6 separate regions of the Homo sapiens genome follow, and regions 2, 3, 4, 5 and 6 are each reported to be linked to region 1. Evidence: microRNA targets listed by miRTarBase, many of them from high-throughput screens and not tested one by one. Region 1 holds a microRNA gene; each other region holds the end of a gene's coding sequence. Distances are between the middles of the regions.
Evidence for each region. The annotated mature microRNA hsa-miR-216a-3p reads UCACAGUGGUCUCUGGGAUUAU and lies in region 1 at 2,816-2,837, opposite strand. An mRNA with a match to its seed (bases 2 to 7 or 8) in the 3' UTR can be bound and repressed. Matches are read on the target gene's strand: a 7mer-m8 pairs with bases 2 to 8, a 7mer-A1 pairs with bases 2 to 7 and ends in A, and an 8mer does both.

Region 1 (5,360 bases):
TGAGGGCAGGCTGCCAAAGGAGGGAAAAGTGGGACTTTCTGGGCATTCAATAAGTGTTCATCATTTAGTGGTACAGCATGGGGGAGGGCCACAGAAAACTCTAATCTGGATTTCCACAGAAGACAAACATTTGGAGCCTGGGGCCATCTTTACCAGGCAGAAATATAATTCAGGTTTTCAACAAAAGCTCAGGATCACAGATTCAGCAGACATCTAAGGTCTAGTCCTGCGGACTGGCAGTAGGTTCTGCTTGTTTGCTCTGATTAAGAGGCCGGCTGCTTGCACCTTGACTTTCATAGTCTTCATGGTACAGGTGGAAAAGGGATAATAAGTGCCACGCTCTAGGTGCTGGTGAATGAGATGATGAGCTAGGAATGCTGAGGACTTAGTTCCCAGGAGCCCTAACAAGGTCTTCGGTCATCAGCAAGACAGAGCCTCTTTACTAAAAGGGTGGGAATCCTGTTGTACTCTATTTTTACTGAAGACTGGCATAAACCCAGTCTAACAAATGATATTTTGAATGTCTCATTGACAGAGATGCCAAATCCTTCACTTATTTTGATGCTAATTACTACCAGGATGTAATTCTAAAATTATTAAGCTTTAAAAGAAAAGTCAGAATCTATGTGTTGAAAGGATAAGTGATTTTCTTTTTTTCTTGAAACAGTGACTCAAGCTGTTGCCTAAAGGAGTTGGGGCTCCTGATTTCTGAGCTAATTTCCTTTTTGTTCTTTCATACTAGCTTTCCTCTTGGTTGGAATCTGCCTATCCTGTGGTCTTACATTCCTAAAGTTAAATGACAAGGAAGTTATTTGCAGTCCACAATAACTATTTTTCTTTAAAGTTTATACATGGTTAGATTCTAAGAAAAGTCTATTAAACTGTGTTACTGGTAAATAAGTCATGCCACTTCTTTAATTAAAACTCTCCAATTGCTTGTGGAGTCCCTCACACTAAAACCCCAAATTCTTACCATAGTCTACCTAGCTATACCCTCTAATCCTCTCCTTCCAGTTTTTCTCACTGCACTCCAACCACAGCTTCCCTGTTGAGCTCAAATACAGTGATTCTCACCTTTGGCTGCACATTACAATCCCCTGGGTGCCTCTTAAACAGAGATGCCCAGATCCCATCCCAGGCATTCTGATTTATCAGTGGCACAGCCCTTGATATTGACATTTTCAAAAGCTCCCTGTGCCTCTATGTGCAGAGAGCACTGGGAACATCTGGAGACTGCAAGAGTGCACTGAGTGTACACACAAGCAAGGCAACAAGCATGGTTCCTGATGCATCATATGTACTCAGCTCTTCAAAAAATATTTCCTGCTCTGTTTAATTACATTTATCTTCTTCCCTTTTTGAAAAATGGTCACCAAAAATTGGAATTGGGAATTTTTTCATGTTTGAAAAAATGATTATTTCAACTAGCAGGAGGATACAGACAACATTTAGAAAGTTTCAGCAGCAGCTTAAAAGAGCCCTTAATGAGTCCTGAAAATTAATACGAAGCCCTCTCCTTACCAGAGGTAAGTTATTTCCTGGCTTATGGTTCAGTATTTGTGCTATTAGTATGTGAATAACTAGTTCTCAAACTTACCTCCTACTGCTCAACATCAATTTCTGGCAAGGAAATCTAATAGGTCATACTAATGTGCCTTGATACAGAAATGTAATTTTTTTTTTTTTTTTTTTTGAGACAGAGTCTCGCTCTGTCGCCCAGGTTGGAGTGCAGTGGCGCAATCTTGGCTCACTGCAACCTCCGCCTCCTGAGTTCACTCCATTCTCCTGCCTTAGCCTCCTGAGTAGCTGGGACTACAGGTGCCCGCCACCATGCCCAGCTAATTTTTTGTATTTTTAGTAGAGACAGGGTTTCACCGTGTTAGCCACGATGGTCTCGATCCCCTGACCTCATGATCCGCCTGCCTCAGCCTCCCAAAGTGCTGGGATTACAGGCGTAAGCCACTGCGCCCGGCCCAGAAATGTAATTTAATCAAACTGAGATATACAGACTTCTCTTTCTGAGGATACCTGAGGGGATATGTGCCAGTCAAGACCTTGGAAATAGCATTTTAATAATTTTTGTTGTTAAAGTTATCCCACATTTAATTATAAATTTGGTTCATCTGATTTGTTTTGTGTTACTGGGTGAATGAGGAAGATAACTGGCCTTGATTTTTCACCCTGAAGAATTACATTTGTTCTTATTCTTTTTATGGAAAAGGATTATCTGTTTCCAGGGATCACCGAGAATTAGAGTTGGGTACAGCTCAAAAGTTTCATGGCAACCTCAGCCTAAGCCATAGTTGATTCTAAATTTCAATATTATTTAGGGCAGATGAATGTGAAACACTTACAGAAGGAATGAGGAAGGGCGATTAAATGTGATAATCTGGGGAGTTGAAGTTTGAGGAGGGCCTGGCAGGAGATCGTCCTCTTTTAGACTGTTTGGAATTTGATGGAGTAGCACCCACAAAGAGAGTGGGAGGAGCTTTCAGAGGGAAAATATTTTGGGTTCAGCTTCTAACACCCAAACTCCCTTGGCTGCAATTTTTTAAAAAACCAAGTAGCACTGAAGGAGCGCAGTAAGTAGCAAGCGAATCCAATAAAGGCAAATTAATTCCCAAGGCTGGTTTCCTTTCCAGCACAACAGCACTTTAGAAAAAGACTTTACTAAGATTAAAAGAGGTTGAGCATGAAACAGTAACCATCGAAACTTTTCCCCCCGTCTTGGTCATGAAATAGAAATTTGGTGTTTAATTTTGGTTGCCATGCAAGTCTTTTGATTCGTGAGGGCTAGGAAATTGCTCTGTTTAGCATAATCCCAGAGACCACTGTGAGGGATTGTATGAACATCTCACAGTTGCCAGCTGAGATTAAGCCAACTCACAGCCATCCGTGTTAGACCTGCAAGAGAAAGTGTATGAGCAGAGGCACGTGGCTGCCTCAGGTGGAAGCACATCTTCATACATCGAGTGCACCAGCAGAAGCCCTGATGTACCCCTCTGCATTTTTCTTGAGGCGACATTATCAAGCTACTCCTCTTGCTGAATTCACAGATTTCTGGCATATGCTATATTGCATGTAATGTCATAAAAGTATAATCTTTGCATTTAGAAAGGATTTACTCTAATCCATATATAGTAAGAAACAGCCAAGTAGGAGTACAGGTGAATGTAAAACCAATCACTAAAAATGATTTTTTAAACAAGCTTTATAGAGAACTTGGAAACATCAAAGCCAAACACTCTAAAATTTGTCCTCAGACAAGAAAACCAGCAATTACGTTGAAAAAGTAATGACCGTATACTCACCAAATGGCCAGATGTGTCAATAGCGGTGGCTATTACCTTTCATAGATGGTGGTATGTCCTCCCCTCTTGCCCACATCACTGTCATGGCTAAGTGAGACTGAGCCATGATCTAAGCCCCTCAGTCCACTGGGTGGGGCTAATCAATGGTAAGAATAATGATTAAGAACGGAAGGAAGAGGAAACGCCCTCAGAGTTTCCCCACCATCTGCCGTGGATGGCATCTCAACTTGAGTGAGTGTAAGAAGCACATAGGAAACTTGTTACAAATGTAGATCCCCAGGACCTACCTCTATATTTTGATTCAGTAGGTCTGGTTTTGGTGGCTGCGATTTGCACTTCGGTGGAGATTTTCCACTGCCTTTCTCCAGCTTCACTTCATACTAGACCATTTCTTCCTCTACATTGTAGACTCCAGCTCTAACAAGTTCTGAGAATCCAATGAGCTGTGTTTGCCCATACTTGGAATTATTTCTTCTTTCTCTCTCCCTCCTCTCTCTCTCTTTCACACACACACACACACACACACACACACACACCCCCTTGTGTGACAGTCACACATTGAAAACTATCACACACTGCCTTCTCTCCCCAGTCTCCCTTTTTTGGCACCTGTAATACACAATGGTGTTTTCTCACTCACATGCTTTCTCCTTCATTGACTGCAAACTTCCAAGTGTTGGCACTGTGCTTATTCATCTCTATATCCTCAACTATACTATTCTCAGTTTAGCATCTGATGTTTAATAAGTGCTCAAAAAAATTTTGTCAAACTAAATCAAATGTTTGTTGAAGCAAAGAATTATGGATTTCAGCTCATAACTTGTCCTTTAATAATTGAGACTTGACACAATTAAGAGAGTGGTAATTTACAGAGTTAGAAAAGTGGCTTTTCGTTTTAAAAGTCAGGTAAATATAAAGTTACAAAACAATTGAGAAAGAACAATTGAATATAATCTTGTGCCTCATATGGACTCCTAAGTACAAAGCTACTTTTGTAAAATAAGAATGTCTCATCATTAGGATTTAACTTTTTAAATATTGTTCTAAGTTTATTTTCTGGAGTCAAATTGCTCAGGATTAAAAATAAGCAGATTTTATCTTAATCAAAAAACAAGGGCTTCTCAGAGCAACATGAATGACGTTCAGTTTTTTCTTTTCTCTTAATCTTATATTTGATTTTCCTTTCTCTCTAGAAAGTTTAATAGTGAAAAGTTACCATAGAGAAGTGACAGGAGTATGTAGTTCTTCTTCCCTCTGCTAGAAAACATTAAGAAAAGATCATAAATGGGAACATCATATGCTGATGTGGAAGATGAGACAGCTTTTTATTAATCTTAAGTTGTCATGTCCACAACTGCACAGGGAGGTGGGCTCTCAATGGAAGCAAAGACATATACGTTTCTGCCTTGCCTACCTTAGTGGGTTGCTGTGATGGGCATTTAAAAAAGAAAAAGGAAGAAACTGATACAAAGTTGTTTTGGCAACAAAGCTATATTAATGTGGATAGATAGTCCACAGGCCAGATAAACTGAAATACAGTAGCAAAGTATCAAGGAGTAAGCTGTTTCTAACACTATCTATACATTCTGTTCAAGTATTCTGAGGATATTATCTAAGATGTCTCTATATGCATATTTTGGGTGCACCGCAATGTATGCATTTGTGATCTTAGTTCTGTTAGAGACTCTCTATAGATTTGTATTTGAGAGTAATAAATTTCAGTTTGGTCATTGGGTCTGTTCAGATGGTGGCAATTTTCCTATTTCCCTGAAGACTAGTGTTATTTATTCAAAGCTGTAATTATTTGGATATCTTCTGAAAACCTGGAGGACTACCCCTTCCTGCAGCTATCTTGGCTGTGGAATGGTGTGTGGGGTGTCGGGAAGCACATGAGCTTTGGAGTGAAGTGGACCTTGGTGTGACTCCTGGTTCTAATACTTAACTACCTGTGGGCTTTAAGGCAAATTGTTTTATTTCTTGGAGCCTCAGTTTCTGTGTTGGTAATACTTGTGCATGAGATTAAGAACTAAATGTGGTGTTTGTGAAAAT
Region 2 (5,360 bases), 80 Mb from region 1:
TGTTATTATAGCCCACTGTATCCAAACAACATGAAAAAATCACAGCAAATACTGATAAAGTATTTGACAAATTCAAAATTTATTCATAATAGAAAATGAACTAATAAAATCTCCATTAACCTGATAAAAGACATTTATTAAAAATCTAAAGGCCAGGCGAAGTGATTCATGCCTGTATATCCCAGCATTTTGGGAGGCTGAGGCAGGTGGATCTCTTGAGTCCAGGAATTCGAGACCAGACTGAGCAACATACATTTTTTTGTCTCTACAAAAAAATACAAAAAATTAGCTGGGTGTGGTGACATGCACGTGTAGTCCCAGTTACTTGGGAGGCTGAGGTGGGAGGATTGCTTGAGCCTGGGTGGTCGAGACTGCAGTGAGCTGAGATTGCACCACTGCACTCTAGCCTGGGTAAGAGAGCAAGGCCCTGTCTCAAAAACAAAACAAAACAAAAAAAAAAACACACAACGAAAACAAAAACCACCTACAGAAATTATCACACTTAATCTCAAGACTTTAGTATTTAAATAAAAACAATACAAGCATGCCTCCATCACTGCTTTTATTCAACACTCTACTGAAGAACTAATCTAATGCAATCGGCAAATATAAGAATGAGACAGGAAGACTAAACTCTTATTTTGCCCCACACTATTCTGTGTTCTACACTTTTTAATTCCCATAATAGTCTCATGATGTAGGATTATGCAAATGAGGAAAGCTGAGGATAAGCAAGTTATCCAAGGTTATACATTAATGTAAGAGCAAAACCAGAATCTGAACCCAGGCAGTGTGGCTAACAGAATCCATACTTTTTACTGTTATGCTATCCCTTCTCACACCTCTCCATCTACCTTGAAAATACAAGATATTCAATACAAACTATTAGAAAGAGTAAGAGATCAAGAATACTGCTGCATAAAATGGCAACATATAAAAATTGATAACTGAGGCCAGGCGCGGTGGCTCACGTCTGTAATCCCAGCACTTTGGGAGGCCGAGGCGGGCGGATCACGAGGTCAGGAGATCGAGACCATCCTGGCTAACACGGTGAAACCCTGTCTCTACTAAAAATACAAAAAAATTAGCCATCTAAGAAAAAAAAATTGATAACTGATAGTGTTCTTTACCCTTGTAACAATTTAAAAATGTCACGGAAAAGATCCCAATCCTGCTACCAAGCAGAAGGGGCTCACTGCCCAATGCTCTAAGCCAATAAAATGACACTGGGTTTTTGAGAAAAGCTTTCTATTTCAAGTGACTTACAAGGAGACAGGAGTGCAGCTCAAATTGCTCTCTCTGTGCTGGTGTTAAGGCAGTGATTTTATCCTTCAGGGGGCGGATTCTGGGATTAGTAGGTGATTGGTGGAAGAGGTCTGGAAAGTTCTTCGGCATGTGTAGTTACCTCTTTATGGGTCCCATGTGCCAATTTGGAGGTAGTTAGTATAAAATATGTGGTGAAACTTTAGGCTGTAACATTAGCAAGCTTGCTGTGTAAACTCTAGTTAGCAATATTGCTTTTAACTGATTTTAGACAGTTTTGTTATAAGGGAGGGGAGTGTTAGTAAGTTGTTTTTTCTTATCTGTTTATCCTCCACACCCAAGAATTTGTTACTCAACTTTTTTTTTTTTTTTAACTCCTTGGGGCATGGTTTCATTCCCAATAGAAAAAACAAAACAAAACACTGTAAGGTGTTCTAACATAAACTGGAAAATTAAAAGCAGTTTTAATATGCTAATGTTAAGTAAAACTACAGTGAACAAAGTACTGTCTATATTATGATTGAATTCATGGGAAACATTTATTTCCGGGCTGAAGCCGAAAAAATACACAAGCTGGGCGTGGTGGCTCATGCCTGTAATCCCAGCACTCTAGGGGGCCAAGGCAGGTGGATTGCTTGAGCCCAGGAGTTCAAGACCAGCCTGGGCAACATGACAACTACTACATGTCTTTACTAAACATACAAAAGTTAGCTGGGTGTGGTGGTGTGCGCCTGCAGTCCCAGCTACCTTAGGAGGCTGAGGTAGACTGCTTGAGCCCAGGAGGTGGAGGATACAGTGAGTTGAGATCCTGCCCCTGCACTCCAGCCTGGGCAACAGGGTGAGATCTTTCAAATTTTGTTACACTGAATATTTTGTTTTCAAGAGTACTCATTAAATCCTGCCCACAAAAAAACACTAAGCTACCTCACCAGTTTCTCCCTTCATCACATGATTAGCAGATCCTTGGCAAGGCTGTTCTGACTCAGCTGAAATATCTTCAGATCTGCAAAGCACAAGGATATAGAGCTAAAATGGAAAGATATTTGCTTCCAGCATTAACAGTACTAAATTCTTTGATAATCTTGAGAATAAAATGCTGATAGGATAAATAATAACATCACACAAAAAGCAAAACACTTTTAAAGTATAAAATAAAAATGTTTTACTACAATTAAAAAAATCAATAAATGAAGAGATATACCATGTTCATCCACTGGAAGACTAAAGAGAGGGAAATTCCAAGTCTTTTCAAATTATTCTATAAATTTAAGGTAGTTCCAATGAAAATCTCAGGATTTACATATCAAATAAATCTGCAAAACAATATTAGACATTTATAGAAACATAAATATTTAGTGAAAATATAAAAACAAAAGAATAAAAGTTTGAATTCATATAATAGTTTCCTATAAGAGGGTACCTTAACTGCCCACAATTTCTTTTTTTTTTGATTTCTTTTCTCTTTAAAAAATAAAGTAAGGGCCAGGCACAGTGGCTCACACCTGTAATCCCAGCACTTTGGGATGCCCAGGCAGGCGGATCACCCCTGAGGTCAGGAGTTTGAGATCAGCCTGGCCAACATGGAGAAATCCCGTCTCTACTAAAAATACAAAAATTGGCTGGGCATGGTGGTGGGAGCCTGTAATCCCACCTACTTGGGAGGCTGAGGAGAATCGCTTGAACCGGGGAGGTGGAGGTTGCAGTGAGCTGAGATCATGCCACTGCACTCCAGCCTAGGCCACAGAGCAAGACTTGTCTCAAAAAAATAAATAAATAAGAGGTCAGGTGCAGCGGCTCACACCTGTAATCCCAGCACTTTAGGAGGTGAAGGCAGGTGGATCGCTTGAGGCCAGAAGTTCAAGACCAGACTGGGCAACATGGAGAAATCTTACCTCTACCAAAATACAAAAATTAGCCAGTCTCATAACCTGGTCTCAAAACAAATACATAAAAATAAAAAAAAATATTTGAAGCAAATATGATAAAGATTTGATAAGACTGGATAATAGGTACAAGTGTATTTTATCATGTTCTAATTTGGTCAGCATGTTTGAAAACCTTCACAATAAAAAAGATTACATCATTCTAAGACTTTACAAACTTTATTTTGAAACAAGCTATAATTACATGAAATTAAGAACAGCTCTAGGGCCAATATTATTGTACTATTTTAGGGTCTAGCAATTACACACTATAGAAGATGGATATTTTATTCTTGCTGTGGATTAAATTATGAAATACTTTTGGGGTGCCTTCTATATTTAAGGTATTCTGGTAGGATATGAAAGAAAAAAATAAGAACTGAATCTAAACTTTCAAAGACTGTACAATATAGATGGTAAACACCCCCTTTAACTTTCAAACATAATGGGCAGATGTTCGTGGTCCAGGGGTAACTTCCTAACTTTTTGACCCTCATATTTTTCTGCATGTAATTTTTTCTTCCTGTACAAAAATATGTTATGTTTTGTTCCTCCCCAATATTTGTGGTCATGTAAAATTAACATTAGCATCAACATTTGTAATAATCTAGAGGGAAAGTGTTTCTAACTAATTCTTACACAAAAATTTCTTTTTGACGGATAAGATGGGACTGGATTTTACTGACATTCACTAAGTATCAGTACCATTCCAGTTAAAAATCAAACAAAATTCTGCAATATATTTTAACCCATGTGAAATGAACTCTGTCAACCGACCCAAGCTGTCAACTTTAAGAGCTCTATCCCTACGCCCATCTAAACTAATATCCTGAAATGAATACATGTTGACAACATATTAGTCTTTATTTATATAAACTAGTTGTGTATTTTTTCTTTTACCAAATTATGAATGCCTAGCACCACTTACAAAATCAGTTGGCCACAAAGTTACACAAAAACTACAATTAGCTTTAAAATTTTATTGAAATTCAAGTTTAGAATTTAACAAATTAATACAATATTACACTGAATACTTTCTAACCAGTAGTTTAGCTTTACATAATTTCTAGGCATAACTTTTAAGAACTGATACTTTCTGGTTAATTTTCCATGATATGCCAATTATACATTCATTAAAATTTCAGATGCTACCTGAATTATTCTTATCTCAATGACAGAATTTAAAAAAATAAGTTCAAATACTGAAAATCTAAGACATTAACACTGGGGCCCTTGTAATATAGAAAAGAAGAAAAATTGTACAATCTTAACTGTTTAAAACTCTTAACGTTTACTGTAGTAACAGAATATGAATTTGTAACATAACCATATGAATTTCTCAAGTTATTTCCTACTGATGCATGTCTGAAGTTATAAAAATCTCTTTTAAACGAACCTATACTGAATTACTCCAAAAATAACAGTGATATTTTAGGGCCTTGCAAATTTATTCTAGTGCATATTTTAAGTACCTAAAGTACAGCCTGTGCACTAGCAGGTTACTGAAAAGAATAAGTGTGGCTTTCTTTTTTTTTTTTTTTTTTTGAGGCAGGGTCTCGCTCTGTCATCCACACTGGAGTTAAGTGGCAAAGTGTGAATTTAAGGAGTGAGTCGTTTGGGATCACGAGGGAACATGGAGGTCTGACGAACATTATGCAATCCCAGAAACAGCATAGTAACTCGTTCCAATCCTGGGGAAGACAAAAATAATCATTAATTCCTTTTTGAAAATCTCTCAGGGTCTTACTTAGAACTACAAACATAAATGTAATCGTTAAACTAAATACTTTTCCTTGTTAGGAAAGAAAATGACTCTTATTATTTTGGGTTTATTTAAAACTGTTTTGAGTATTGATTCAGAAATAAAGATGCTGCTATAAATGAAAAGGACTAAGTAATATATCCTTGAGTGGTATGGAGTCTAAAATGTGAACCACAAAAATCTATACGAATGAACAAAATCTATGATGTAACAATAAGAAAAACAAAACAAAAGACTTTATAAGCTTGAACGTTTCAAATGATACCACACTCTGATTATACAGTCCAGGCAATGAGGATGAGAGCCATAAACTTGCTTAAGCAATAATAGAAGTATGAGAAAATTTACTGTTAATTTTATAGACATTTAACATGGTGGACCCTACGATAAAAAGCTCTGGAGTACATTATTAT
Region 3 (5,360 bases), 32 Mb from region 1:
CTGACGCACGTGGCCCCTGCGGCTGTGTCATTCCCCTATTGGCCAGGGTTAGACCGCACAGGCTAAACTAATTCCAACTGGCGAATTTAAAGAGAGTGATGGGGTGAGCACTTTGGCGGGAGTCCGGGCAGAGCAGGTAGCAGGTAATTGGAATGAGTTAGGGTGGAGCAGGTGATCAGAATGAGTCAGGGTGGAGCAGGTAATTGAAAAAGGTTGCTTTACGAGGAAGTTTGAAAGTAGAAGCCAAATAATTGAACATACTGACATATCCTTTGAAAATAAATGTAGAACTCTTATCTAACAGTCCCATACAAGGGAAGGCTTGTTATCTTTCGACTTTTTCATAATAGCCAACCTAACAGGTGTGAGGTGACATCTCATTGTGGTTTTGATTTGCATTTCCTTGATGATTAGTGACGTTGAGCACCTTTTTATATACCTGTTGACCATCTGTACATTTCTAGGGAGGCAGGAAGGAGGCTTTGGAAAAATCTCTGTTCAGGCTCTGTCCTCATTTTTAAATTGGGTTACTCACTTTTTTGCTATTGAGGTGAATGAGTTCCTTATATATTTTGGATATTAACCTTTTATTTGATACATGGTTTGGAAATATTTTCTCCCTTTCTGTAGGTTGCCTTTTTGTTCGCTGTGCAGAAGCTTTTTAGTTTGATATAGTCCCACTTGTTTATATCAGATCTTAATGTGACTGTGGTCAGTTCTACCCTTAATGGTTGGGTGGGCTACACTAGTAGACCCAAGTGGACTGAGGTTTAAATGCAGTAGCAGTTAAGTTTTGCTTATGTCCTGGCACTGTCCCAGTGGGTCAGCAGGCTGTCCCTCTCGGTGCGGTCTTTCGGATCCTATCTCATGGGCCTGTGTCATCTTCAGCACCTGGCTTCCGAGGTTGCACTGGGAACTCATTCCTATCAACCTGAAAAGGGAAGAGATCGTGGATGAGTTCTTCCTGGGAGTCAGGTGTATGTGGGCCGGGCTGGAGGCGGCATGTCATTTCCTCTGATGTTCCCTGGGCTGGACCCAGTTCCATGTCTGTTCCTAACTGTAGGGTGAAGGAGCATGGGGAAAAGTATTCCATGGCTGGTCTGCCTACAATGGCAGGAGAGCATTTTGTGGACAGCTGGTCATCTCTGCTGTACATACCACAAAAAGATTAGTTATTTGTGGAGTTCAAAGATACAGACAGCCTTGTCTGAGAGTTGGCAGGAACCAGACAGAGTGAGAGAGAGAGAGGTAAAGCAAGAGGGCCGGCTGGAAACCTGCCTGAAACGGGAGTCTTAGCTCCAGCAGGAGGGCTGAGTGTGGGGCAGAGTCAGCGGGGGTCCTCGCTGCACCTGTAAGCCCCGCATCCCTGCACCACACTTAGTCCTTCTCTTCTGTCACTAGGTTTTAGGAACCAGACAGCAGAGACCCCGTTCCTGGGCTGCTGGGGACAGCCAACAGCACAGGGGTCCCCAGCCTGTGGGAAAAAGAGTGATGACAGCTGAGGTGCTGGGGCAGCACCTGGCCTCCCTGCAGAAGGTGGCCAGGCAGGGCCACCCTTGGTACTGAAGCTTCGTGGACTTGACTTGGCAGTGTCTGTACAGCAGTTAAAATACTCTAAACATATTTTCTTCCTCCAGAAGTGGAAATAAATTGCAAGAAATACCCAAATCACAGGAGTTCTTATTTATTGAGCTCCTGTTGTGAACCAGGAACCCTGTGAGGTACTTTGTTCACTGAAAAGTTTTCGCAGTAAGATAGTATTATCCTCTCCCAACACACAATGCTCTGAGGCTTGGTGAGCTGCTCAGAGGTGGCAGTCCCCTAGCTCAGAGGTGGCAGTGTTCTCTCAGGCCAGTCCCTCAGGTGCCACACAACACATTTATCCCCTCCTCACATGCACTCAGACTTGGTCATCAAATTGCTCACAATTTGGGTTGCCTTTTAAGAGAGCGGAGTGCCCCTCCCCGGCCATGGCACCTGTTCCTGAAGAGCACTGGAGGGACCTGCTGAGGGGGGTTCTCAGCAGAGGGGAGATGTCTGGGCGCATGAGGCACATATGCCAGGTCCTGCTGGGGTGGAGGTACATAGACTCAGGCGGTACAGAGACTCAGGCGGTACAGACTCGGGGGTATGGAGTCTTGGGGTACGGAGACTCAGGTATGGAGACTCGGGGTATGGAGACTCGGGATAGAGACTCGGGGTATGGAGACTCAGGCACACCCCACATCCTCCCAAAAGTCAGGCTTACATTTGATTTCTAAAGGGGCAGGTGTGCGTTCCTAGGCGTAAGGGGACAGCTGGAGTGGCCGGGTGCGCCGATGCTCCGTGTGGTCCGTGGTTTCATAGAGGTTGTCTGACTCTGGTCCTGATGCTCCTCTGCCCTAAATCTGACCAAAAAGTCCTGTCGTATCTAGCAGTGGAGAAATGGCACTCGCCACAGTGAGGATTACGGTCCCCGCAGCCCTGGGAACACAGGACGGTTCCGTAGCTCTCGTTCCCAGTAAGCCTAGAGCTGGTTTTGAGTCATCAGGGCAGCCTTGCTGCTGACATCAGCCAGGCTGGCCTTGTGACCAACAAGCCCCAACCCTAGAGACAGCCAGCAGTTCACTCTGCTCCGTGAGACTGGGCCTGACTACCCACTTTCCCACAAGCAAGCAATATGTTCAGTTGTTTAGGTTTCATATATCCAGTGACATCTCTTACCTTTTTTATGTCTATATTTTAACCAATCAGTGCCCAGGATCTATACCTGAGTGAGTGATGGATTTTTAAATCTGAATGTGCCGGTTCTGTTTCCCAGTCCTTTGCCCAGCAATTATGTTTAAACAGAAGCGGGGGCTAGGGTGGAGGCCCAAGCCCTTGGGACATTTGAATCCTTCCTTGTTCCTCTAGTTGCCTGGAGACCTGCTCCCTTAGAAATCAGGGCCCTAGCAATTCAAATGATTCCTTCAAAAGGACTTATCTGGCCGGGCACAGTGGCTCATGCCTGTAATCCCAGCACTTTGGGAGGCTCAGGCAGGCGGATCACTTGAGGTCAGGAGTTTGAGACCAGCCTGGCCAACATGGTGAAACCCCGTCTCTACTAAAAATACAAAAATTAGCTGGGTATGGTGGTGGGCGCCTGTAGTCCCAGCTACTCAGGAGGCTGAGGCAGGAGAATTGCTTGAACCCAGGAGGCAGAGGTTGCAGTGAGCTGAGATCAAACCACTGCACTCCAGCCTAGGCGACAGAGTGAGACACTGTCTCAAAAAAAAAAAAAAAAAAAAAAAAAGGGGGGGGGCAGATCTTTTCCCAGTTTTTACTGGGTTTAGTGTGTAAGACCTGTGTGCATTTCTTTGCTGTAAGTTACCCTCAGGTTATCACTCGATGAGGCAAGCTGAAGGAGGGTCAGTAGCTCCCACAGAGATCATCCATTTCACCCATTAAAGAAACCCAGCCCCAGAAACACGAGGTAGATTCACCAAAGTCACAGAGCAAATTAGTGGCAGAGTCAAGATGAGGCCCTGGGTCTCCTGACCTCATCCTCACTCTGTCCTTGGTTTTCCCACGTACCAGGAAGGAAACTTGGTTTCATTATAGGCAACTTGTGAAGGTACCTTTTAAGAGCCTTTCATCTGGCTGAGAAAATTAAAAAGAAAAAAAGCAGCTTTCATATAGAAAGTAAATCAGTCAGACTTTGACGAAGTTCCATCCATAAACATATGTCTTTATTCTCTTTCTGTACATATGGGCAATGATAAAGCTTAAAGATGCATGTCCTAAGAAATATGCAAAAACAATGAATTTACATAAATAATTTATACTTCAGAAAATTAAAGTTGAAAAATATTTTCCACATTATTAGAGTTCACAGTATTTAAATCAAGCTTTCCCACTTATACTCCAGACTATATTGTCTTAGCAGAGAGTGATAAAATCTAATCAGGAATAAAATGATCAAGTTTCTGTTTTTATTCAGTGCACGAGTAGACGCTATTTCAGTATCAGGCCGCGCCAAGTGTCGAGGCTGCAGCCTCTCATCCTGACCCTTCCCCTCCTGAGTGGCTGTGACCCAGCAGAGGTCACTGGCGTGGAATGGTTACAGCGTCACCAAACCACTCCACGGTGGACACATTCAACCGAGCGGTAACATCTGGTGGTCTGATGCCTCATTTCCAAGTAATACTTTTTATAGCCCTGAAAATGGAAACCTTGGCATCTAAACAAACAGAGCTGAACATGTGAACACTAGGACAAGGCACTGTACTATGGGGTTTGGTTTCTTTATGGGAAAGGTGTTTGCATAGATTGCTAGCTATTTAGTGTGCAGGAAAACAGAGCCCCCAGCGTGCATGGCTTTGTGAGGGGTGAAGCTGCATGGTGCTCCCTCAGCCCCAAGAGAGCGCAGTCTCTCATTCTCCAGCCCCAGCCTTGTGGGCTGTCCCGCTGGTGCTGTCCTTTAGAACCCCTACAGGAGAGTTTTTTGCTCAAAAAGCTGCAGGTCAAAACGGACCCAGACCTCCCCGGTGGGGACCTCATGCAGCAGCAGTCGGCGGGTCATAGGGCCTTTGCTTTCCTGTTCTGTTCGAATTTTTGCCACTGGAATTTCAGTACGACCCAGGAAATCTGGTGAATAAACACAGGAGAGTCAGAAGTCTTTCTTCTTTATAAAATCATTAAAGAGCTACATCCGGAAGAAGTGGATTCATAAAACCTTCAAATCTGAAACAAGGAACTTCTTTTGGCTCATGGCTGTTGAATGTCGTGAGTGGGTGTGTGGGGAATGATGGCAGGTTTGTGTGTGAGAAGCTGCCACATGGAATTCAAATCTCCATTCTGAGAATGCTCCAGGAGTGGTGTTCACGTCGTGTGTGTAGGGAGTGATGGGTCAAAGACCTGAAACACATCTCAGGCCACCTCCTCCCCTGAGGAAGGCCACCCACCTGCTGCCAAAGCGAGATGACACAGGCCTGTGTCACTTCCCTGAAGTGGCATGGGGTCTGCACACAGCTGAAGCCCCTAGATCTGGACTCCAGGATCTAGGAAACTGGGAAAGCCTTTAGATCCCCTGGCTGAGCGACACTTACCATCTGGTGAAAACTGGTCTCTGTCAAACAGGGTGAGACACAGCACGTCTTGGTAGAGATCCTTAATAAAGAACTGGCAGTTAAAATTCCACTTGGGATTGAGTGTGTCCTGGATGGTCCTGGTGGTGTAGCTCTGGGAGCCCATGCTGATTTCACAGTATGGGTTGCTCTTTCCTGAACAAAAACAAACCACAGACACATGTGGTGCATGCAGGTAAAACGAAGCGACTGACAGTGCCCTCCCTGAGCAGAAGCAGGATTCCAATAATGGGTCACTCGAGACCATGGCAGCAG
Region 4 (5,360 bases), not on the chromosome of region 1:
ATCGGCCAGGCTGGTCTTGAACTCCTGACCTCAAGTGATCCACCTGCATCGGCCTCCCAAAGTGCTGGGATTACAGGCGTGAGCCACCGCGCCCGCACGGAGAAATGCTCTTGGTAGGGGAAATAACTTGTGCAAAGGCGCCGCCGCCGTGGTGAGATCCAGCTTGGCGTGTTAGGGGAAATGGGCACCCTCGTTCCTGGAAAACGGTAGGCCTGTGGGTGACCAGCTTCCCTATCTGTCTTCCCACAGTGCGGCTGGGATCCGGCGGCCACCTGCACCTGCGTATCTCTCGGGCCGCCCTTCCCGAGGGGCTCCCCGAGGCCTCCCGCCTTCACCGGGCTCTGTTCCGGCTGTCCCCGACGGCGTCAAGGTCGTGGGACGTGACACGACCGCTGCGGCGTCAGCTCAGCCTTGCAAGACCCCAGGCGCCCGCGCTGCACCTGCGACTGTCGCCGCCGCCGTCGCAGTCGGACCAACTGCTGGCAGAATCTTCGTCCGCACGGCCCCAGCTGGAGTTGCACTTGCGGCCGCAAGCCGCCAGGGGGCGCCGCAGAGCGCGTGCGCGCAACGGGGACCACTGTCCGCTCGGGCCCGGGCGTTGCTGCCGTCTGCACACGGTCCGCGCGTCGCTGGAAGACCTGGGCTGGGCCGATTGGGTGCTGTCGCCACGGGAGGTGCAAGTGACCATGTGCATCGGCGCGTGCCCGAGCCAGTTCCGGGCGGCAAACATGCACGCGCAGATCAAGACGAGCCTGCACCGCCTGAAGCCCGACACGGTGCCAGCGCCCTGCTGCGTGCCCGCCAGCTACAATCCCATGGTGCTCATTCAAAAGACCGACACCGGGGTGTCGCTCCAGACCTATGATGACTTGTTAGCCAAAGACTGCCACTGCATATGAGCAGTCCTGGTCCTTCCACTGTGCACCTGCGCGGAGGACGCGACCTCAGTTGTCCTGCCCTGTGGAATGGGCTCAAGGTTCCTGAGACACCCGATTCCTGCCCAAACAGCTGTATTTATATAAGTCTGTTATTTATTATTAATTTATTGGGGTGACCTTCTTGGGGACTCGGGGGCTGGTCTGATGGAACTGTGTATTTATTTAAAACTCTGGTGATAAAAATAAAGCTGTCTGAACTGTTCCCTGTGGTGTCCAGGATAAGGGAAGGTGACCTTGAGAAGATCCTCCTCTCCCTGACCTCAGTTTCTCTAGGAGACCTGGGAGGGGGTAAGTGGAAAGGCTCAAGGAATGAGTGGCAAGGTGTTCTCGGAGATGCCAAGCCATTGGAAGGTGCTTACGACACCTGTGGGCTCTAAGGGCAGCCTTGGCCATTCCTGACTCCCTGACTCTCTGTCTCTATTTCTCTATCTCCTTATTGCTGTTTCTTTTTTCTTTTTATTTTTTTTAGACGGGGTCTCACTCTGTTGCCCAGGCCGAAGTGCAGTGGCACAATCACAGCTCACTGCAGCCTCAACCACCCGGGCTCAATCGATCCTCCCACCTCAGCCACCTGAGTAGCTGGGACTACAAGTGCATGCCATCATGCCCAACTAACTTTTGTATTTTTTGTAGAGGCTGAGTTTCGCCATGTTGCCCAGGCTGGTGTTTCTGTTTTGGAAACAGCTGAGACCCCATACCTTTTTAAGTCTCAGCTTCCCTCCATCTTTCCTCATTCCTCAAAACTTCTCTCTTTGGGGTCTGAGGCAGAGGATCTGTCTCTGTCTTTGTCTCTATCACCATCCTGTTGCTCTCCCCACTTGGGAGTCACCTTTCCAAACACAGGCAGCTCAGAGCCAAGTCTATCTGCAACCAAGTGCCTTGTTTTGTGGTACTGTCCCCAACCTGAGGGGTTAGTCCCATCACCCCTCCTGTTTGTGGCACTTCCATGTTAGTGACACCTCATTCTTTCACATATAAAGAGTAGGGAGAAACAAATAAGTTGTGAAGAATATTTTCATGCACACCACATCTCCCAGGTTATATATACTTCCTGTTTAGGATGTTGGAATTTTGAGGTGTGCTGAGTCCAGCCCCCTCTCCACACCAAACTGCCTGCCCATCCTGAATCTCTGAGAGGAATGGCGATGGGTGTCTTGAGGGACAGAGTACCCACTTCCAGCAGTGAGGTGTATCTGCTGGGAATGCCATCACCCACAGGCCAACCTGAATGACTGCAGGTTCCCCTTAACGTATTCAGTGAGTGCCCACTTTATGCCAGGCCCCGGACACAGCTGTAAAAAGACACACAAGGACCACCCCACTTTGCGGAGCCTGGTTGAGTGAAGGGGACAAATGAGTAAATCCTAAGAAAGTAGTTGATTGCAGTAAGATTTGTGCTGGGGATTCAACCCATCAGTTCATTAGTGAACGGAGGCAGAGGTGATCTAGATAGTTGGATGGGGAGGCCTCCCTGGGGAGGGAGGTCACATTTGAGCTGAGACCTGGAGGAAGAAAAGGAGTCGGGGAGGGGGTAGTTGAGGGTGGACATTGCAAGTAAATGCAAACAGCAAGTGCAAAGGCCCTGAGATGGGAGCAGGCTCACTTCAGTCACAGCAAAGCTGTTGAAAATGGGCACCTAGGAGGCTTCAAAATTAAACTCAATACCAAAAGGCAGCAGATGGTGTCACTGAGTCTTTCCCCAAACAACAGCTGTTGCCTTTGCAAGGTATAGGGCTGGGCCTGTGCCTTCTCTGTGCTTCTCCAGGCTCTTGCACAAGTTGGTCCACCCAGCCAGCATGCCCTTTCCTCTCCAATTCTCAAACTCCTATGCATCCTTCAAAACCCACTGCAGATTCCCCTCTTACATGCAGCCTTATTCAAACTCATTCAATTGTCTCCATGTGGGGACTGTGCTCCCATTCTTCCCTTTGGCCCAGGCTTGATCTCCCAGGACTGAGGGTACTTGTCTCTAGTTCTATCTCCCCCAGGTTGGAGGATTGGGCTGGGACCAGCTGATAGGAAACCCAGTTGAGGCATGAGCCTGAAAAAACTCTTGAAATACAGACATCTGTGAGTCATTAACTCTGCCTGAGAAGAAACCAGGGACAGCTTCTCAAAGGAGGTGGCATTGCACCAGGGTCTTGAAAGATTTTCTCAGAATATTAGAGCTAAAGGAATATATACATTTTTTTATTTTGGGGTTGGTGTGGGCTGCTCTGGAGGCCAAGCCTGGAGATCAGGGACCTGGGAAGGGGCCCTGAGAGGGGCAGAAGGGAGGAATGTGCCTGGGCGCAGTGGCCACGCCTGTAATCCCAGCACTTCAGGAGGCCGAGGCGGGCAGATCGCTTGAGGTCAGGAGTTCGAGACCAGCCTGGCCAACATGGCGAAACCCCATCTCTATTATAAATACAAAAATTAGCTCGGCATGGTGGCGGGTGCTGTAATCCCAGCTACTCAGGAGGCTGAGGCAGGAGAATCACTTGAACCCAGGAGGCGGAGGTTGCAGTGAGCTGAGACCGCAGCATTGCACTCCAGCCTGGGTGACAGAGTGACACTCAGTTTCAAAAACAAACAAACAAACAACAACAACAAAAAAAAACAGGGATGGGAGGTGGGGAGCAATTTGGGAGTCTCAGATGGAGACTTGGTCTTAGAACTCAGAAATCCCCACCTTGAGGAACCCACGCACCCTGAGCCAGCAGCCTCATCAGCCTCGAAGCATTTATTGAGCACTGCCTGTACATCCACAGGAGGGTGATGACAGGATTGGCACAGTGACCGTCCTGTCCCCTTGTTGGGGGTCTCTCCTCTTCCCCCTCTAGGAGCTGAGGGAGCTGAGGAGCGGCATGAGGGACAGGGAGGGGGCGGCAGAGCTTCCTGGGGCCTCAAGGACAATCCTTTCCTGTACCCATTCTTCAGATGGGGAAACTGAGGCCATGGAGGCGTTAGGACGCCCTGAGTCACCCAGCAGGGACTGAAGGGGTTCTGGGTGGAGGTTAGGACATCTTAGGCTCAGTGCCCGGGGATCACGTACTCCTCTTCATCCATTGGGGCCTGGCCCAGTGACTGCAGGTTACAGTAGACAGGCTGGGAAGCCAGGTCGATGTCCTTGTAGTTGATGTAAAAGTCATTGTCCTCTGAAGGGTGAGCCCTGGGGGGACAGACAGACCAGGGGTAAGTGTGGGAGGGGGAGGACTCAGGGGACAGGCACATGAGCTTTGAGAAAGTCCAGAGTGGGCCAGGTGCTCTGACTCACGCCTGTAATCCAGCACTTTGGGAGGCTGAGGTGGGTGGATCACCTGAGATCATGAGTTCAAGACCAGCCTGGACAACATGATGAAACCTCGTCTCTACTAAAAATACAAAAATTATCCAGGCATGGTGGCACAGGCCTGTAGTCCCAGCTACTCGGGAGTCTGAGGCAGGAGAATCACTTGAACCCAGGAGGTAGAGGTTGTAGTGAGCCGAGATCGTGCCATTGCACTTCAGCCTGGGAGACAGAGCAAGACTCTATCTCAGAAGGAAAAAAAAAAAGAAAGCTTCAGAGTGGCTCAGTCCACCCCGAATATTTACATATGGGGAAACTGGCACGGGCTAGCGTTCTGACTCCTAGCCAACCCCACCTCTCTCTGAGGAGGCTGCGGGAGGGCAGTGATTTAGGGAAGGTTCTGTGGGTGTAACGCTGCGGTCTGAGGACCCTGAACCCTTTTTCCTTCCTTAAAAATGAGATAGCGGCCAGGCGCGGTGACTCATGCCTGTAATCCCAGCACTTTGGGAGGCCAAGGCAGAAGGTCTGCTTGAGGCCAGGAGTTTGAGACCATCCTGAGCAACAGGGTGAGACCCCATCTCTACAAAAAATTAAAAAATTATTCAGGCGTGGTGACGTGTGCCTGGAGTCCCATCTCCTCGGGAGGCTGAGGTGGGAGGACCGCTTGAGCCCAGGAGGTCGAGCCTACAGTGAGCCGTTATCACACCACTGCACTGCAGCCTGGATGACAGAGGGAGACCCCGTCTCAAAAAAAACAGAAATTGAGGTAGCTGTTCATTATTACATTAAAATCTAAATTTTTGTTTCCTCTTGAAAAATCGGAAGCTCTGGCCACGTCAGTCACATGCACACAAGTGGCTGCACCCACACTCTGTGCTCCTTCCGATGGGAAATGTTTTCACCACTGAAGCAACTGACTTTGTGGCCCTCATATATAAAAGCAAGTCTCTGAGCCTCAGTTTCTGCATCTATAGAATTGGTCAAGGAGCAGGTAGCTACTTAGGAATATTTGTTATGGTCAGCAAGACCTCCAGAGAATTTTCCTGCCTCCTGAACATTCTAATTCCAACCCAGCTCCTCTTGTAAAAAGGGCCACTGGGCCAGGTGCGGTGGCTCACGCCTATAATCCCAGCACTTTGAGAGGCCAAGGTGGG
Region 5 (5,360 bases), not on the chromosome of region 1:
CAATTACATTTTTTTGTTAGTTTGTTTGTTTTTGAGATGGAGTCTCACTCTGTTGCCCAGGCTGAAGTGCAGTGGCACCATCTCAACTCACTGCAGCCTCCGCCTCCCATGTTCAAGCAATTCTCCTGCCTCAGCCTCCTGAGCACCTGGGACTACAGGCACCCGCCACCAGGCCCAGCTAATTTTTAGTGGAGACAGAGTTTCACTATATTGCCCAGGCTGGTCTCTAACTCGTGACCTCAAGTGATCTGCTCGCCTTGGCCTCCCAAAGTGCTGAGATTACAGGCCTGTGCCACTGTGCCCACTCTGATTTCATTTAAATGTATGGTTTGCTTAGAAAGGTTAGAAACAGGCCGGGTGCGGTGCCTCACACCTGTAATCCCAGCACTTTGGGAGGCCGGGGCAGGTGGATCATGAGGTCAGGAGTTCGAGACCAGCCAGACCAACATGGTGAAACCCTGTCTCTACTAAAAACACACACACACACACAAATTAGCCAGGTGAGGTGGCATGCACCTATAATCTCAACTACTCGGAAAGCTGAGGAAGGAGAATCACTTGAACCTGGAAGGCAGAGGTTACAGTGAGCCGAGGTTGCACCACTACACTCCAGCCTGGGTGACAGAGCAAGACTCCATCTCAAAAAAAAAAAAAAAAAAAAAGAAAGAAAGAAAGGTTGAAAACAAATATTATATTTACCATGTGACATACAGAAGTTACTAGAAATCCATCTTATCCCTCCATTTTGTAAATGCAGATATCAAAACAACCCCAATCATATATTCTCCATCATTTTATTATGAAAAGTTTCTTTTCTGAGACGGAGTCTCGCTCTGTCACCCAGGCTGGAGTGCAGTGGCGCAATCTCGGCTCACTGCAAGCTCTGCCTCCCAGGTTCAAGTGATTCTCCTGCCTCAGCCTTCCGAGTAGCTGGGGCTACAGGCGCCCGCCACCACGCCCGGCTAATTTTTTGTATTTTTAGTAGAGACGGGGTTTCACCGTGTTAGCCAGGATGGTCTCGATCTCCTGACCTCGTGATCCGCCCGCCTTGGCCTCCCAAAGTGCTGGGATTACAGGCATGAGTCACCGCGCCCGGCCATGAAAAGTTTCTAAATTACAGCAAAGTTGAAAAATTTTACAGTGGACACCCGCATATCCGCCACTTAGATCCTACCATGAACACTTTGCTGTATTTGCTTTATCTCACATCTACCTATTACACTATTTATCCATCAATCCAACTCATCTCTGGATGCATTTCAAAATAAATTGTCGACATTGGTTTATTGTTCCCTAAATATTTCAGTGTACATACTTTTTTTTTTCTTTTCTTTTTTTTAAAGACAGGGTCTAGCTCTGTAGCCCAGGCTGGAGTGCAGTGGCATGATCTTAGTTCACTACAATACAGCCTTGAACTCCTGGGCTCAAGTAAACCTCCTGCCTCAGCGCCCCTCCCCGCCCCTAGTAATGGGACTGCAAATCGTGTGCCACCACATCTGGCTATTTATTTACTTATTTATTTTTGTAGAGACAGGTCTTGCTGTGTTGCCCAGGGTAGTCTCAAACTCCTGGCCTCAAGTGATCCTCCCGCCTTGGCCTCCCAAAGAAGTCAGATTACAGGCGTATCTTTAACTGGCGTTCAATATTTTCTTTTGAGGTAAACTTTACATACAATGAAATTCACACACTTCACTAAGTTTCATAAGTGCATACACCTGTGTAACCCAAACCCCTCCCCAGCATGGCAACTAGTTTTTTTTTTTAATGTAGCCTCTAAAGCAAGTGTCAGAGAGAGAGAGAAAGAGAGAGAAATTATCTTTTTTTTTTTTTCCACTGCAACCTCTGCCTTCTGAGTTCAAGCAATTCTCTTGCCTCAGCCTCCTGAGTAGCTGGGATTACAGGCACCCACCACCAATGCCTGGCCAATTTTTGTATTTTTAGTAGAGACATTTCACCATGTTGGCCAGGCTGGTCTTGAACCCCTGACCTCAAGTAATCTGCCCACCTGAGCCTCCCAAAGTGCTGGGATTACAGGCGTGAGCCACCATGCCCAGCTGAGAAATCATCTTTTCTAACTGCACTTTAGAAGTTAAGCTGCATCACTTCCTCTGCATTTTATTTGTTGAGGGGCCCAGTTTCAAGATGAAGGGACATAGACTCTGCCTCTTGATGGCAAGTGTGTCAAAGAATATCAGGTTTATAAAAACCGTTAAGTTTTCCAACAGTCCAGAGAGGAGGTGATGACAGCCTAGATTGAGGTGTGAGCAGTAGAAGGGGAGAAGCAGTTGAATTCTGGATAGATTTTAAAGGTGGAGGCCAGGTGCGGTGGCTCACATCTGTAATCCTAGCACTTTGGGAGGCTGAGGTGGGTGGGACACCTGAGGTTAGGAGTTCGAGACCAGCCTGGCCAACATGGTGAAACCTCGTCTCTACTAAAAATACAAAAAATTGCCAGGCATGATGGCTCATGCCTGTAATCCCAGCGCTTTGGGAGGCTGAGGCAGGAGGATCACGAGGTCATGAGTTTGAGACCAGCCTGGCCAATATGGTGAAACCCCGTCTCTACTAAAAATACAAAAATTAGCCAGGCGTGGTGGCACACGCCTGTAGTCCCAGCTACTAGGGAGGCTGAGGCAGAAGAATAGCTTGAACCTGCAAGGCAGAGGTTGCAGTGAGCCGAGATCGTGCCACTGCCCTCCAGCCTGGGGGACAGAGCAAGACTCTGTCTCAAAACAAACAAACAAACAAAGAAAATTAGCTGGGCGTGGTGGCAGGTGCCTGTAATCCCAGCTACTCAGAAGGCTGAGGCAGGAGAATCGCTTGAACCCGGGAGGTGGAGGTTGCCGTGAGCCGAGATCATGCCATTGTACTACAGCCTGGGCAACAAGGGTGAAACTCCATCTCAAAAAATAAAATAAAATAAAGGCGGAGATGGCAGGATTTCCTGGTTAACTGTGGGTGGAAGGGAAAGACAGAAGTCAAAGACAACTCTAAGGTTTTTGGTCTGAGCGGCAAAGGACAGAGCCGAAGAAAGTTGGGGAGGGGGGGCCCAGCACGGTGGCTCACGCCTGCAATCCCAGCACTTTGGGAGGCCGAGGCGGGTGGATCACGAGGTCAGGAGACCAAGACCATCCTGGCTAACACAGTGAAACCCCGTCTCTACTAAAAATACAAAAAAAATTAGCCGACCGTGGTGGCGGGCACCTGTAGTCCCAGCTACTCGGGAGGCTGAGGCAGGAGAATGGCGTGAACCCGGGAGGCGAAGCTTGCAGTGAGCCGAGATCACACTATGGCACTCCAGCCTGGGTGACAGAGCTAGACTCCATCCAAAAAAAAAAAAAAAAAGAAGCTGGGGAGAGGCACGCCTAGGGGGAAAGATTGGAAACTCCATTTAGGACCTATGGAATTTGAGATGTCTTTTAAACCCTTGGGTAGAAATGGTAATGAGGTAGGAGCCCAAGGTTTCGTGGCCAGGTCTAGGTTACAGACAGAAATTTGAGGATTATCAGAATAGAGACGGGGTTTAGAGTCATTAAGCTAGACAAGAGCACCTATGGGTGGGTGCAGATAGAGATGTCAACGCCATGGCCCTGGGTCATGCCAAAGTTGACATGCTGGGCTAGTGACTAGGCCTGACCAGAGAGGTGCAGAGAGAAGGGCTGGAAGCAGGGAGAGAAAGTGCTTCAAGGAGGGAGGGGTCAGCTGCACCAGATGCTGCTGCTGCTCAAGCATGTGTGGGCTATAGCCTGACCATCATCCAACACTCTGATGACCCTAGTAGCTTCCTCCGTGGAGGGCAGTCCTTTGGTCCATTTGAGCCAGGGCTCCTGAGTGAAGCCAGATAAGGTGGGTCCCAGTCTTGCCAGAAGTCTTGTCTGAAACTCCCTCTGCCCCAAGGAAGATATAACCAGAAAGGAGATCTTGTTTCCGTGGTCAGGAAGGGGTGGGGGGCAGGGCAGAGCCATGGGGCAGCGGAGGATGGGGGGCATTTCCTTAAATTGGCATGACCCCTTGGCCTTTCCAAACAACCCCTTTCTCACAGATAACCAGTAACTGTATGAAAAAAAAAAAAAGAGCCTCACTGGGTAAAATAGAATCTGTACAATTCAAAGTCTTCTGGCCTCCAGGGAATCTCCTTCCCTTCTTAGCAGCCTCCTTGGGGACCTAGGGGGCGACCCGGCTGGAGGGGACCAAGATCCCAGGTCTTCAGCCTGGTCCAACAGGAACGATAATCGGGCATCCGCTTCCCTGGAGAAAGGCCGGGAGAGCAGAGGCTGGGGTATGTGCTCAGGCTTAGAATCTGGGGCTGTGGACGGACTGCTGGGACAGGGGATGAGGAGGGCTGGATGCCTAACCGGGTCTCAGAGGTCTCCGGGGCCCAGTGTCATAGACTCTGGGGATGGAGGGTCGGTCACCTTTTCTGCCGACTCAGCTCTGCCCTATGGGCTCTTAGCACCTGCAGCACGGGATCGTCCTGGAACTCGCTGCCGTCGGAGTCTGGGCCGGGGAGAAAAGAATGAGCTCCAAGGGGCCGGCCTCTTAGGGGGCTGGCCTGCCTCCAACATCCAGGAGGGCGCGGGCATCACCTTCTGCAGCCTGCAGCAGCAGGGCGGCCTGGGCAAGCAGGGCCTCCGAGGGGGCGTGGTCAGCAGCGGGCGGGGGCGGGGCCAGGGCCTCCGGAGACCCCACCTGGAAGGCTGGCGGCGAGGCCTTGACTGTGGTTGCCTGCTCAGCTGGAGAGAGTGGGACCTCGGGCTGCAGGCAGGCTCCAGGGGAAGGAGTGGCTTCGCTCTTCCGTATCACTGACCCCGCTGCGGGCGGCAAGGCCTTGGCTTTCAGAGACTCGGCCTTGGCCCGACACTGGGATTCAGATGGAGGGGGAGTGACCTTGGTTTGGGGTTGTGTGGCCTGGACTTTCGGAGATCCAGCCTTGGGTGGAGGGGGGCCCTCGAAGTGAGGAGGCGTGTCCTCCAGGCTGTCAGGGAACAGCCGAGCTGCCACTACCTGGCCCAGGACACCCCTGAGCTGAGGGCCAGGTCCCTGGCCAGCTGCAGGGACTTGCTCGGCAGCCTCTGGGCGAGGGGCTCTGCTCCTCCGAGACTTGGGCCCCAGGCTCTTAGGCTGGGCACAGCTGCTTGGGTCAGGGATGGGCAGGCCCTGGGGGACAGCTGGGGATGCGAGGGTGGAGGCTGGAGGTGCAGGGGTACAGGCCAGGGGAGCCGGGGTGGAGGCTGGGGGTGCAAGGGTGGAGGCCAGGGGAGCTGGGGTGGAGGCCGGGGGTTCGAGGGTGGAGGCCAGGGAAGCCGGGGGCGCGAGGGTAGAGCCCAGATGTGCTAGGGTGGAGGCCTGCTGCGTGGGAG
Region 6 (4,974 bases), not on the chromosome of region 1:
CTAGGCCCTTGGGCTGGCTGGGCACTGTGTTGCCAAGCCAGGGGGCTGAGGAGCATGAGGGTGGTGTCATGCTCACTCATTCATTCAACAAATATTTATCCAGCACCTACAACATGCCAACCACTACTCTACATGAGCAAAACCAACAAAAGCCTGCCTTTGTGTAGTTTACATTCTATGGGTGGGGACAGAAAATAAATAAGTAAAATATATTGGGTGTCAGGTGGTGATAAAAGAAAGCAGGAATGGAGCACGGGGTCCAGGCTGAGGGTGAAGTGTGCAGTTTTAAATGAGGTGATCAGGGAAGATGACGTCTAAACAAAAACCTGAAGGAGATAAAGGAGCAAGTGAGGGCAGCACCTGGAAGGAGATTGTTCCAGGCGGCAGGAGAAGCCCTGCAAGTGCAGAGTGTTAGGAGACACCTCTGTAGCGCGTTGAACAATGAGAACACGTAGACAGAGAGGGGAACAAGACATACCAGGGTCTGTGGTCGGGGAAGGGGTGTGGCGAGGGGAGGGTGAGCATCAGGACAAACAGTTAATGTATGCGGGGCTTAAAACCTAGGTGATGGGTTGATAGGTGGAGCAAACCACCAGGGCACACGTATACCTATGCAACAAACCTGCATGTCCAGCACCTGTATCCCAGAGCTTAAAGTTAAAAAAAAAAAAAAAGAAAGAAAGAAAGAAAGAGTTGAACAATGAGAACACATGGACACAGGGAGGGAAACATCACATACCGGGGCCTGTTGTGGAGGTGGGAGGCTGGGGGAGAGATAGCGTTAGGAGAAATGCCTAATGTAAATGACGAGCTGATAGGTGCAGCAAACTAACATGGCCCATGTATACCTATGTAACAAACCTGCACGTTATGCACATGTACCCTAGAACTTAAAGTATAATAATTAATAATAATAATAATAAAGAAAAATGTAAGAAAGAGAGAGAGACACCACTGTAGACAGCCACACAGAATAAGGTGTTGGGAGATGGCAAGAAAAGGCAGAACCATACACAGGCTGGTGCCTAGTCTGGGCCCCAGGGCCTGAAGTGGGGTCAGAGATGAGAGAAGCCAAGTTAAGGATGAAATTGTAACCTCAGGTGAGACAAAATGCTAGAAAGCAGACAAACAGAAAGCTGGAAAATGTTGAGATGCCACTGGAGGCCGGCTCCAGAAGGAAGCAGCTGAGTCTGCAGTTAGATGAATTAAGGGAACATTGAGATTCCTCACAAGGCTTGGGTGGTGGTGGGTGCAGCCAGAAGAAGGTGAGCCCAATGGCTGAGCCCCTCTCAAATACAGCTGGTGTCTCCCTTGAAAATAAGCTGTTCCAGGTAAAGGGGATAGGGCCACTGAAAGCATCTTGGCCCGTGTTCAACAGGACAGTGGTGAAGGGCATGAAACTGCTGGGCATCAGCTCCCTCTCAGCCCAGGGTCCATACACAAATGTTCCACCTTTTATTCCCCACACTTCCATTTCCTGAGCACTATGTGCTAGCATTCCCCATGCAAAGTGCTTTCCAGGGTTCATCTAATCCTCACGGCAACTTCACGAGGAAGGAATTATCATCTTCAGCTTACAGATGAGGAGCATTGCCCTGCCACCCACCACCACCTCTGTCCCCTAGTCCCTTGACAGCTTCACTTCTTGCTGAGCCTAGAGCTGCACAGGCTCAGCCAGGTTCAGAGCCAGCTTGATTGGATGCAAATCCCTGCTTCTCCCTTAATTGCTTTGTGGCCCTGGGCACATTCCTTGGCCCTTCTGAGACCAGTATCCTCATCTAAAGACAAAATGGGGAACACATTACAGTAATATCCACCTCCTGGGCGTTTGTGAGAATCTTCTGGGAGAAGGCAGTGGTTCTCAGCGCTGGCACTGTAACAAATGGCATTTCTCAGAGTTGTGAGGCGTGTGGCCAATAATTTATAGCTATAAATAGTTAAACCAGGGAAGGTGGCAAACGGCTTGTTGTTTTAGTATACATAGCGAATTCAATGTTTTCTCTGCAATGACATCACTCTCCCTGACTAGCATTCCACAAAGCCTTCCTGAATGAGAGATAAAGGATCTAATCCCCTGGGAATTTGCCCATAGGCTGCAGCCTATCTTATCTGTGCCACAGCCTGTGGGAGTGCAGCAAGCAAGCAAATACAGTCTCTCCCGAGGTGTGGTGTGGCAAGGCTAAGCGTGGTGTGGGGATGAGGCTGACAGCCATGGCTATGAAGAATTGGCATTGGGCCTCGCCCCTAGTGGGTGCTTTTTGGAAGAGGGAGCCTCAGAGAAGCAGGGGAACAAAAGGGGAGAGAACAAAAGCTCTGGATACAAACCTGTTTCCCTCAGGCACAGTGTTGTGGCTTTCTCCTCCTAGGAGACAGAGATACCCTCAGGTAGAAAAGGGGAAAGGGGCAAGGAAGGCCAGGCCTCTGGGTGAGGCTGATGGGGCTGGAACTTAATGTCAGACTGGCCCAGCGTCCCTCAAATTCCCCCTGGGGAGACACAGAGTCTGACTGGGAAGCCTTGGGGTAAAGGTAACACCTAGTGGTTAGAAACTATGGGTGGGGCTCCCAGCACTTTGGGAGGCTGAGGCTGGGGAGTTGGGAGATGGCAAGAAAAGGCAGAGCCATGAGGTCAGGCAGATCGCTTGAGCTCAGGGGTTCGAGACCAGGCTGGCCAACATGGTGAAACCCCATCTCTATAAAAAATACAAAAAATAGCCAGGCACGGTGGCTCACATCTGTAATCCCAGCACTTTGGGAGGCCGAGGCTGGCAGATCACCTGAGGTCGGGAGTTCAAGACCAGCCTGACCAACGTGGAAAAACCCCGTCTCTACTAAAAATACAAAAAAATTAGCCAGGCGTGGTGGCACATGCCTGTAATCCCAGCTACTCAGGAGGCTGAGGCAGGAGAATCGCTTGAACCTGGGAGGCGGAGGTCGCAGTGAGCCGAGATCATGCCACTGCACTCCAGCCTGGAGAACAAGAGCGATCATGCTACTGCACTACAGCCTGGGTGACAAAGCAAGACTCTGTCTCAAAAAAAAAAAGAAAAGAAAAAAAAAGAAACTGTGGGTGGAACACTCATGCCTCGGTCAAGGATAGGTGCTAGAGACAACCTGACCCAAAATTGATGATCATGGCCCAAGGCCACACCCTAGAAAGGAAGTTTTAGTCTCTCCCAGGCACTTAGTTCACAGGTGCTTAGGATCAATCAACACGGCTTCTTCCCTCCAGCGACCACCACCAACTCACTCCTGCTCATTCCCCAGCTCTCCACGTTTCCTCACCACTGCAACCCCCACCCTCACCACTCCAACACAGACCACCTCACCCCAAGCCCGCCTGAGGGACCTCTCACCTGGAGACAGCTTCACTTGCCAGGACTGATGGCTGTGCCAGCAGCCAGCCCCACCCTCTCAGTGACTGAGAAGCTGTTCCAACTGTAGAGGCAGACCCAGCCAAAGGCAGCAGGCAGGATTAGCCAATTCCATTGACTAGAAAGGGCCTTACTTCCCTGTGGACACTGCCTACATAGTCTGCATTCAGCTGTGAGGTCCTGTCCCCTCTCAATTCCAACCTACACCACCCCCCAAAGCAAGTGAGAATGAGGATGGGGAGGAAACTCAAGACAGGGGTTAGCACTGCAACCTCTCATCTCTGCCCTCCTTCCTGTATCACTCACTGCACTTTGCCCAGTATTCCTCCCTTCCCCACAGTGGCACAGTGGCCCCAGACACAGCCAGAGTCCATTCAAAAATGACAAATTCTTTATTTAAATCAACAAACTCATCTTCCTCAAGCCCCAGACCATGGTAGGCAGCCCTCCCTCTCCATCCCCTCACCCCACCCCTTAGCCACAGTGAAGGGAATGGAAAATGAGAAGCCACGAGGGCCCCTGCCAGGGAAGGCTGCCCCAGATGTGTGGTGAGCACAGTCAGTGCAGCTGTGGCTGGGGCAGCAGCTGCCACAGGCTCCTCCCTATAAATTAAGTTCCTGCAGCCACAGCTGTGGGAGAAGCATACTTGTAGAAGCAAGGCCAGTCCAGCATCAGAAGGCAGAGGCAGCATCAGTGACTCCCAGCCATGGAATGAACGGAGGACACAGAGCTCAGAGACAGAACAGGCCAGGGGGAAGAAGGAGAGACAGAATAGGCCAGGGCATGGCGGTGAGGGACTGAGGCCCCTAAATTTTGGTCCCAGGGGAAAGGAAGAGGCCAGTTGGTCCAGTTTTGATGGCTATGGGGAAGGGAATGTATTAGTAAGCATGGGGGAGAGGATGCCAGCAGGCACCTCAGAGGTGACAGGACAGGCTGAACCCCCCACCCTGACAGAAAGGAGCTTGAGAGCTCTGGGGCTCTCTGGGAATGTCACTGCTAAAATATATATCTACATATATATTAACCATTCGTGGGAGGGCAGGGGCAAGGCCTGGGGTGGGATCAGAGGATCTGGCGTGGCATCCCGTAGCCAGTCATGCCTGCCTGAGACGCCCCGCGGTTGGTGCCCATCTGTAACCCGATCACGTTCTTGCCCTCTTGCAGCTGGTTATCCGAGAAGTTCCGAGGATTCTCCTTGGATTTCCTGGGTGACAAGGGAGTGGTGGTTAGAGGAGATCACAGGCTGCCCTAGTAAATCCCTTCCTTGGACAGAGCACAGGCTTTGCTGTTGGCTCAAGGGCTGGTGCCAGCTCTGCCCTCGAGAGCCATAAGCTCTCTGAAGCCACCTCCTCATCTGTCCAAAGGGACAGTCATTTGCCATCCCAGAGGGTGTTGTGAGGATTAAGTGAGATGAGGAATTTTCTGAAAGTGCTTTGTAAAGGGCCAGCTGCTACTGAGATAAGTTATTTCCTAGGGACAGGATTGGGCAGAAACAATGCACCTGCTGGACCCTGCGGCTGTCCCAGCAATACTTACTTAGGGAACCAGTTGGGATCCCCAGAGAAGAGCCCATCATCTCGGGCTACTGCCAGCCCACCCAGAT

Region 2: miRTarBase lists DARS1 as a target of hsa-miR-216a-3p. The part of its 3' UTR that is shown has no 7-base or 8-base seed match.
Region 3: the mRNA of ITSN2 is a reported target of hsa-miR-216a-3p. Seed matches in the 3' UTR shown: 7mer-A1 at 3,848-3,854.
Region 4: miRTarBase lists GDF15 as a target of hsa-miR-216a-3p. Seed matches in the 3' UTR shown: 7mer-m8 at 916-922.
Region 5: the mRNA of PROSER3 is a reported target of hsa-miR-216a-3p. Seed matches in the 3' UTR shown: 7mer-m8 at 3,142-3,148.
Region 6: the mRNA of TAGLN2 is a reported target of hsa-miR-216a-3p. Seed matches in the 3' UTR shown: 7mer-m8 at 3,851-3,857.

Annotation. Positions count from the first base shown.
Region 1 is chr2:55,986,166-55,991,525 of GRCh38, forward strand. It overlaps MIR216A (microRNA 216a), which reads right to left and starts at 2,894; the gene lies at 2,785-2,894. All of the region lies in intron 2 of MIR217HG (MIR217 host gene), which reads right to left. All of the region lies in intron 3 of LOC105374690 (a long non-coding RNA gene), which reads left to right.
Region 2 is chr2:135,902,532-135,907,891 of GRCh38, forward strand. DARS1 (aspartyl-tRNA synthetase 1) reads right to left here. Exons shown (of 16, transcript NM_001349.4): 16 at 3,350-4,876. The coding sequence ends at 4,785. Among named protein-coding and RNA genes, the nearest start is that of MCM6, 29 kb to the left of the region's middle.
Region 3 is chr2:24,199,179-24,204,538 of GRCh38, forward strand. ITSN2 (intersectin 2) reads right to left here. Exons shown (of 40, transcript NM_006277.3): 39 at 5,067-5,240; 40 at 3,686-4,605. The coding sequence ends at 4,448. Among named protein-coding and RNA genes, the nearest start is that of FAM228A, 27 kb to the left of the region's middle.
Region 4 is chr19:18,388,037-18,393,396 of GRCh38, forward strand. GDF15 (growth differentiation factor 15) reads left to right here. Exons shown (of 2, transcript NM_004864.4): 2 at 250-1,140. The coding sequence ends at 899. LRRC25 (leucine rich repeat containing 25) reads right to left here. Exons shown (of 2, transcript NM_145256.3): 2 at 3,101-4,089. The coding sequence ends at 3,951. Among named protein-coding and RNA genes, the nearest start is that of MIR3189, 4.2 kb to the left of the region's middle.
Region 5 is chr19:35,767,292-35,772,651 of GRCh38, reverse strand. PROSER3 (proline and serine rich 3) reads right to left here. Exons shown (of 11, transcript NM_001367856.1): 9 at 4,587-5,360; 10 at 4,416-4,497; 11 at 1,486-4,248. The coding sequence ends at 4,107. Among named protein-coding and RNA genes, the nearest start is that of ARHGAP33, 5.6 kb to the left of the region's middle. RefSeq lists an enhancer at 4,749-5,360.
Region 6 is chr1:159,914,367-159,919,340 of GRCh38, forward strand. It overlaps TAGLN2 (transgelin 2), which reads right to left. Exons shown (of 5, transcript NM_003564.3): 4 at 4,908-4,974; 5 at 3,745-4,575. The coding sequence ends at 4,434. Among named protein-coding and RNA genes, the nearest start is that of TAGLN2, 8.7 kb to the right of the region's middle. RefSeq lists an enhancer at 3,551-4,440.